Linked DNA regions of Homo sapiens. The protein of the gene in region 2 purifies or fractionates together with the protein of the main gene of each other region. This does not show direct contact. Each region holds a gene or a part of one and is shown on either strand. Other genes may lie near its edges.

Evidence for each region. The genes of interacting proteins can lie anywhere in the genome.
Region 1: the proteins of MAGEB3 (region 2) and MYH7 purify together in Homo sapiens (co-immunoprecipitation; one large-scale study listed by IntAct). This does not show direct contact.

Annotation. Positions count from the first base shown.
Region 1 is NC_000014.9:23,422,161-23,425,660, reverse strand, and holds part of MYH7 (myosin-7), read left to right. Parts: intron 1-242; coding exon 243-379; intron 380-636; coding exon 637-892; intron 893-1,511; coding exon 1,512-1,754; intron 1,755-1,937; coding exon 1,938-2,114; intron 2,115-3,335; coding exon 3,336-3,481; intron 3,482-3,500. UniProt on the Homo sapiens protein: Myosins are actin-based motor molecules with ATPase activity essential for muscle contraction. Forms regular bipolar thick filaments that, together with actin thin filaments, constitute the fundamental contractile unit of skeletal and cardiac muscle.
Region 2 is NC_000023.11:30,229,351-30,233,456, reverse strand, and holds the start of MAGEB3 (melanoma-associated antigen B3), read right to left. Parts: upstream 2,801-4,106; 5' UTR 2,640-2,800; intron 1,941-2,639; 5' UTR 1,839-1,940; intron 1,391-1,838; exon of another isoform or gene 1,315-1,390; intron 631-1,314; 5' UTR 541-630; intron 196-540; 5' UTR 94-195; intron 1-93.

The DNA of each region.
Region 1 (3,500 bases), on a different chromosome or scaffold from region 2:
ATCTCTTTTCCATTGACTCCTCTGATGCTTTTCCTGTTGTAATCATCTTAGCAAAATCTCTTACCTGTATGCTACCCCTCCCAGTGGAACATCTAGCACCACTCCCCTCATCCCAGCTCCAGCTGCCATTGACCTCCTCCCTGCAATCCTTTTCTAGGCTGTTACCCTTCCTAAGGTAATCCCCACCATCTCTTTCCCTCGTACCCCTCCCTAGTCATGGCCAACACACACCTTGCCTGCAGGTGTTCTTCAAGGCCGGGCTGCTGGGGCTGCTGGAGGAAATGAGGGACGAGAGGCTGAGCCGCATCATCACGCGTATCCAGGCCCAGTCCCGAGGTGTGCTCGCCAGAATGGAGTACAAAAAGCTGCTGGAACGTAGGTGAGAGATCTCAAGAGGAGGTTTCCCGCTTCTCTGAGGCCCAGGCTGGTTCAGGGGCAGTGTCAGGAAAAAAAGCTCAGCAGATCTTCAAACACAGAGACCTGCAGGAGGGGCTCATATGAACACACTGCAGTCACAGGGTCAGAGGCCTCAGGAAGGGTGGGAGGGATGAAGGAAATGGGATATTCCCAAGGTTTCAGGACCTCAGGTAGGAAGGAGGCAGGAGGCTCAGCACTCCTTTCAATGGGCCCCTGCAGAGACTCCCTGCTGGTAATCCAGTGGAACATTCGGGCCTTCATGGGGGTCAAGAATTGGCCCTGGATGAAGCTCTACTTCAAGATCAAGCCGCTGCTGAAGAGTGCAGAAAGAGAGAAGGAGATGGCCTCCATGAAGGAGGAGTTCACACGCCTCAAAGAGGCGCTAGAGAAGTCCGAGGCTCGCCGCAAGGAGCTGGAGGAGAAGATGGTGTCCCTGCTGCAGGAGAAGAATGACCTGCAGCTCCAAGTGCAGGCGGTGAGGCTCCTGGGCTACTGTTGGCTCTTCCACCCTGCTCTGCCTTCACTTCCCACAACCCTGCACCTCCCTGCACAGGGGCTCACTGTCTTGTTCCTTCAGTCAGAGGACTCTGGGATCAACACTTCTAAAGACCTCCAAAGAGGTCCCTCAGGAGGAGGAAAGGGCAGAGGGAAAAGAGCTGACTTTTAAAAGCACAGGCTTTCTACTTGGGTTCAACCTAGATACACAGCTTAATTATTTTGTGACCTTGGGCAGACCATGCATCATCTTTGAGCCTCAATTTCCTCTAGACAGGGAATAAAGCTGTCCATTTCATTAAGCCATCATACATAAGTGCTTGGCATCAGCAAATGCAATTCCCACCCTTCGATGGAGGAGACCAGAGGAAGAGGTCCAGATGAAGATTTCTGGTTCCTTTCCTCTCTGCTCCCCTCCCCAGTGTTCCCAAGTTATACTATCCTGAAACTCTTCCCCTCCCCATACTTCTGAAGCTCTTGCCAAGTGGGGATATCCTAGAGTTACCCTCCTATTTGAGTGATGTGCCTCTCCTTCCCTCTACCTGCAAGAATGAGGACCTTACCCCCTGAACAGCCTCCCCTCTGTTCCTCACCTTCAGGAACAAGACAACCTGGCAGATGCTGAGGAGCGCTGTGATCAGCTGATCAAAAACAAGATTCAGCTGGAGGCCAAGGTGAAGGAGATGAACGAGAGGCTGGAGGATGAGGAGGAGATGAATGCTGAGCTCACTGCCAAGAAGCGCAAGCTGGAAGATGAGTGCTCAGAGCTCAAAAGGGACATCGATGATCTGGAGCTGACACTGGCCAAAGTGGAGAAGGAGAAACACGCAACAGAGAACAAGGTAAGGGCAGCTCCCTTTGGCTCCAGCCCGGGTCTCATCAGGACTCTCAGACCATACTGACCTTGACCCAGGCTAGCCACTCGGCATCCAGAGAGCAGCATGGACCTTGACATGGAGCTCCCCACAGATGGCACCAAGCTGGTGACCTTTGACCCTAAAGGAGATGGGATTCTTGGTCGGCAGGTGAAAAACCTGACAGAGGAGATGGCTGGGCTGGATGAGATCATTGCCAAGCTGACCAAGGAGAAGAAAGCTCTGCAAGAGGCCCACCAACAGGCTCTGGATGACCTTCAGGCCGAGGAGGACAAGGTCAACACCCTGACTAAGGCCAAAGTCAAGCTGGAGCAGCAAGTGGATGATGTGAGTAGATTGAGAGTTGTGGGGCCTAGATATGCCATGTCTATCTGTGCCCAGAGCTCTGTGTGTGTGTGTGTGTGTGTGTGTGTGTGTGTGTGTGTGTGTGTGTGTGTTTGTGTTTATGTTTAGAGGGGGGTAGGGTTAGAGGATGTTAACTTTTCTGATATCTTTCTAGAAAGGAGCTGGGGAATGAAAAGTCAGAGGTGGTGATCAATTCTGAATTATGTATCTAATCTCACTGGTATGATCAATAATAGAGATGAGTTTTCTTATTTAATTTAAGTGCAATCCCATATATCTCTGCCTTTGACACAAGATTTAGAGGGTCATCTCATAAGAACATGATAAATTTCTTTGGAAATTTTGTGAGGCTCCCCAAGTAGAATTTTTGAAATTCCAATATTTAAGGCAGAATCTGATCATTGTTCCCTCTGATGCACATATGTCTGTTGACTCACTTATCACTCTGTATTTTAATTATTTAAGCTTCTATCTCAGCCATAAGACTACAAGCTTCCTTTAGATAGGAACTTAGATCTATTCAATTTGGGGACTGCAGTGCTTAGCACAGAGCCTGATGCCCAGTAGGTGTTTATAGGATGCTGAAAGAATGAATACGGCGGCCAGCCGCGGTGGCTCACACCTGTAATCCCAGCACTTTGGGAGGCCAAGGCGGGTGGATCACGAGGTCAAGAGATCGAGACCATCCTGGCCAATATGGTGAAACCCCATCTCTACTAAAAATACAAAAATTAGCTGGATGTGGTGGCGTGCGCCTGTAGTCCCAGCTACTCAGGAGGCTGAGGCAGAATAATCCCTTGAACCAGGGAGGCGGAGGTTGCAGTGAGCCGAGATCGCGCCACTGCACTCCAGCCTGGCGACAGAGTGAGACTCCATAAAAAAAAAAAAAAAAAAAAGGAGGAAGGAAGGAAGGAAGGAGAGAAAGAAAGGAGAGAAAGAAAGAAAGAAAGAAAGGGAAAGAAAGAAAGAATACGGCTTTGGGGTTTCATCCCACAGTCATTTATTCCTTTATCTATAAAATATTGATTCAGCATCCCCTATATCTAGGCAATCTCACAGTCCCCTAATAACATTTGGCCCACTCTGGGGAAGGTTTCCCAAGTCCTGAACACAAAGATTTACCAAGTCCTGAGGTAACTGAACAACAAAATCACCAAGTCAGGATGCTTTGCCTCACTGGGCCTGGCTCCTTCTCTCTACCAGCTGGAAGGATCCCTGGAGCAAGAGAAGAAGGTGCGCATGGACCTGGAGCGAGCGAAGCGGAAGCTGGAGGGCGACCTGAAGCTGACCCAGGAGAGCATCATGGACCTGGAGAATGACAAGCAGCAGCTGGATGAGCGGCTGAAAAAGTACTGTGTCCCCTCCCTG
Region 2 (4,106 bases):
CTTTCTTTCTTTCTTTCTTTTTTTTTTTTTTTTTTGTGACAGGGGCTCTCTCTGTCTTCCAGGCTGGAGTGTAGCCGCGCAATCTTGACTTACCACAACCTCCACCTCCCAGTCCTCGAACTCCTGTGCTTAAGCGATGAGGCTGGCTTCGTCCTCCCAAAATGTTGGGATTACAAGCGTGAGCCAGAGCCCTGCCTTAAAATTAAAAAAAAAAAAAGTTTATATCTATTTATTTATTTATTTATTTATTTTGAGATGGAGTCTCGCTCTGTCACCCAGGCGGGAGTGCAGTGGCGCGATCTTGGCTCACTGCAACCTCTGCCTCCCGGGTTCAAGGGATTCTCCTGCCTCCACCTCCCGAATAGCTGGGACTACACCTGTGCCCCACCACGCCCGGCTAATTTGAGACAGTGTCTCTCTCTGTCGCCCAGGCTGGAGCGCAGTGGCGTGACCTTGGCTCACTGCAGCCTTGACTCCTAGGGCTTAAGCGATCCTCCCACCTCAGCCTCCTGGGTAGCTGGGACTACAGGGGCAGCTCACCTCCCAGTCCGCGAACTCCTGTGCTTAAGCGATGAGGCTGGCTTCCTCCGCCCAAAATGTTGGGATTACAAGCGTGAGCCACAGCCCTGCCTTAAAATAAAAAATAAAAAAAAGTTTATATTTATTTATTTATTTACTTATTTTGAGATGGAGTCTCTCTCTGTCACCCAGGCGGGAGTGCAGTGGCGCAATCTTGGCTCACTGCAACCTCTGCCTCCCGGGTTCAAGCGATTCTCCTGCCTCCGCCTCCCGAATAGCTGGGACTACACGTGCGCCGCACCACGCCCGGCTAATTTGAGACAGTGTTTCTCTCTGTCACCCAGGCTGGAGCGCAGTGGCGTGACCTTGGCTCACTGCAGCCTTGACCCCTAGGGCTTAAGCGATCCTCCCACCTCAGCCTCCTGGGTAGCTGGGACTACAGGGGTGCTCCACTGCTGCCCCGCCATTTTTTTTTTTTTTTGTAGAGACAGGTTTTCGCCATGTTGTCCCGGCTGGTTTCGAACTCCTGGGGGGGCCCAAACAGTTCACTCGCCTCGGCCTCCCAGTGTGCTGGGATTACAGGCCTGAGACGCCGTACCGGCTTGGTCTTCATCTTGACTCTAGTTAGGGCCAAGAGACCTCTGAAGAACTGAGGCTGCCCTGTTAGAGAAAGCCTTCCCCTCCCTGAGACCCGCCAGGCTGAAATGAGAGGCAAGCCAGTTTTATAGTTCCGCCTAGGGCTTTCCAGGGTTAAAAACATGGATTGTCCCTTCAGTCCCCGCTGAGGGTTCTTACCTTTACTCCGGATCAGTTCTAAGACTCACGCTAGGCCACGAACCTGACTGAAGCTATTGCACCCGTCAGGCCAACTGCCTCACTTTCAAAGCGGAAGTGAGGCTGAGCCACACCCCGCTCGGGGTCTCCGAGGGCTGACAGCAGCGGGTGACACGCTGGGACCCCACTGTTCTGGAGTCAGTGGTCCCTAGGTCCTTATTCAGGGTTCTCACCTTGATACTAAGCGGAGCAGAGTAACACCTCTACTGAGCGAAGTCCGCCAACCTCCAAAATCCTCCCCTCCCATAGTCCCTAGAGGGGAAGTCTAGGCATGTTATCGGACCATGTCCTGGGGCTTCAAAGACCTGAAACAGGGTTAGGGCTTTTGGTGGGCCCTTCTTTTGGAGAGAGGTTCCCTGGTTAGCACCGGTGGGCCTCATATTTCTTTCTTTCTTTCTTTCTTTTTTTTTTTTTTTTTTTTTTTTTTGTGACAGGGGCTCTCTCTGTCTTCCAGGCTGGAGTGTAGCCGCGCAATCTTGACTTACCACAACCTCCACCTCCCAGTCCTCGAACTCCTGTGCTTAAGCGATGAGGCTGGCTTCGTCCTCCCAAAATGTTGGGATTACAAGCGTGAGCCAGAGCCCTGCCTTAAAATTAAAAAAAAAAAGTTTATATTTATTTATTTATTTATTTTGAGATGGAGTCTCGCTCTGTCACCCAGGCGGGAGTGCAGTGGCGCTATCTTGGCTCACTGCAACCTCTGCCTCCCGGGTTCAAGCGATTCTCCTGCCTCCGCCTCCCGAATAGCTGGGACTACACGTGCGCCGCACCACGCCCGGCTAATTTGAGACAGTGTTTCTCTCTGTCACCCAGGCTGGAGCGCAGTGGCGTGACCTTGGCTCACTGCAGCCTTGACCCCTAGGGCTTAAGCGATCCTCCCACCTCAGCCTCCTGGGTAGCTGGGACTACAGGGGTGCTCCACTGCTGCCCCGCCATTTTTTTTTTTTTTGTAGAGACAGGTTTTCGCCATGTTGTCCCGGCTGGTTTCGAACTCCTGGGGGGGCCCAAACAGTTCACTCGCCTCGGCCTCCCAGTGTGCTGGGATTACAGGCCTGAGATGCCGCACCGGCTTGGTCTTCATCTTGACTCTAGTTAGGGCCAAGAGACCTCTGAAGAACTGAGGCTGCCCTGTTAGACAAAGCCTTCCCCTCCCTGAGATCCGCCAGGCTGAAATGAGAGGCAAGCCAGTTTTATAGCTCTGCCTAGGGCTTTCCAGGGTTAAAAATATGGATTGGGCTCCGAGAAGTCCCCTTATTTGTGGGTTTAGTTTTCCCTTTTTTACTCACTCAAGAACCTCACTTCGCTGCTGGCCAGTCCTGGGACTCCACATTCCATGCCATGAATCCTGCTCAGATCAAGGTCCTCCGAGATCTAGGCTGAAGTTTTGATGAGCCACATTAGGCCAGGGATGTTTGGGTCCTGTGAGGGCAGACAGCGGAGTCGGGTTTCTATGGGACATCACTGTTCTGGCTCCTCCTGTTCTTCATTCAAGGTCCTCCCTGATATCTGCCAGACCCTGGATCCTCCCTCTAGTTAACTGAGGTCACCTTAGGTCAAAACTCTCACTTCACTGAGAACTCTGAAGGGTAAAAGAGAGGATGCTCAGTCTGACTGCACTGCCTGGGGCATTCTAGGCTGAGAAGAGGTTTGGGTAGATTGCCCCGTTATCTTTTGGTGTGGTTGTCTTTCCAGTATTTATTTATGGGTGTCCTCCTTATTTTCTCTTGCCTCTCTGAATAAAGGCTTCCTGGGAAATGCCACATCCCTGCAAACTCTTGGGCAGCGTTCCTACTGCAAACCTTGCAAGTCTGTGCCCCAGGGCTAATGTGAGGTAAAGAAATTATAACACAAAGCAGGGAGTCCAAGGTAGCTGGTGGGTTGTCAGAGAAAAATGATGCTGATTTACTCTTTTCAATAGCCAGCACTAGCCTCTTATGTGACTTCTGTTTTAATTGATTTACTTCTTAAGGGGAAGGAGCTGTTCAAGATGATTGTGTGGTCCCTGATTTTGAGGTTATCTGACTGTGCATATGTAGATGATCATATTGTCACTGAATAATATCTCTTTCTCCTCTTTATTTGTAGCTTTCATTTATTTTGATATTCTTTATTGCTTTGGCTATGTATTCCAATCCAATTCTTTGGGCACAGAATCCTTCTTTTTAACCCCTGAGATATATTTGGAAGTATTGAGAAGAAAAGTGAATTAAAGAACACAAAGTCTGCTCCAGGCAGAGAGGAACAGAATGAAGAGTGTGGGCTCTAGAAGAATTCACAACAGGAGTCTAGTCCCAGCCCTGTCACTTACTCACCCTGTGAACTTGAGCATATTACCAAACTCCAAACAAAGAAATTATAATCAAACAAAATGCTGCTTAGCAAGGAAAATTATATAATTTATAAAGTGTTTGTGGAAGAGCCTTCTCCAATTGGATACAACTCAAGTCTCAAAATTTTTGTCAATGACCAATATTTTTTTCTAACTCCTAGGCACCCTTCTATGTTAACCACTCCTGTTTTGATTTTTATTATTTATTTATTTTTTTTTTTTGAGATGGAGTCTCACTCTGTCACCCAGGCTGGAGTGCAGAGGCACTATCTCGGCTCATTGCAACCTGTGCCTCAGGGCTCAAGTGATTCTCGTGCCTCAGCCTCCCTAGTAGCTGGGATTACAGATGTCCACCACCACGCCCAACTAATTTTTGTATTTTTGGTAGAGACGGGGTTTCACCACGTTGGCCAGACTAATCTTG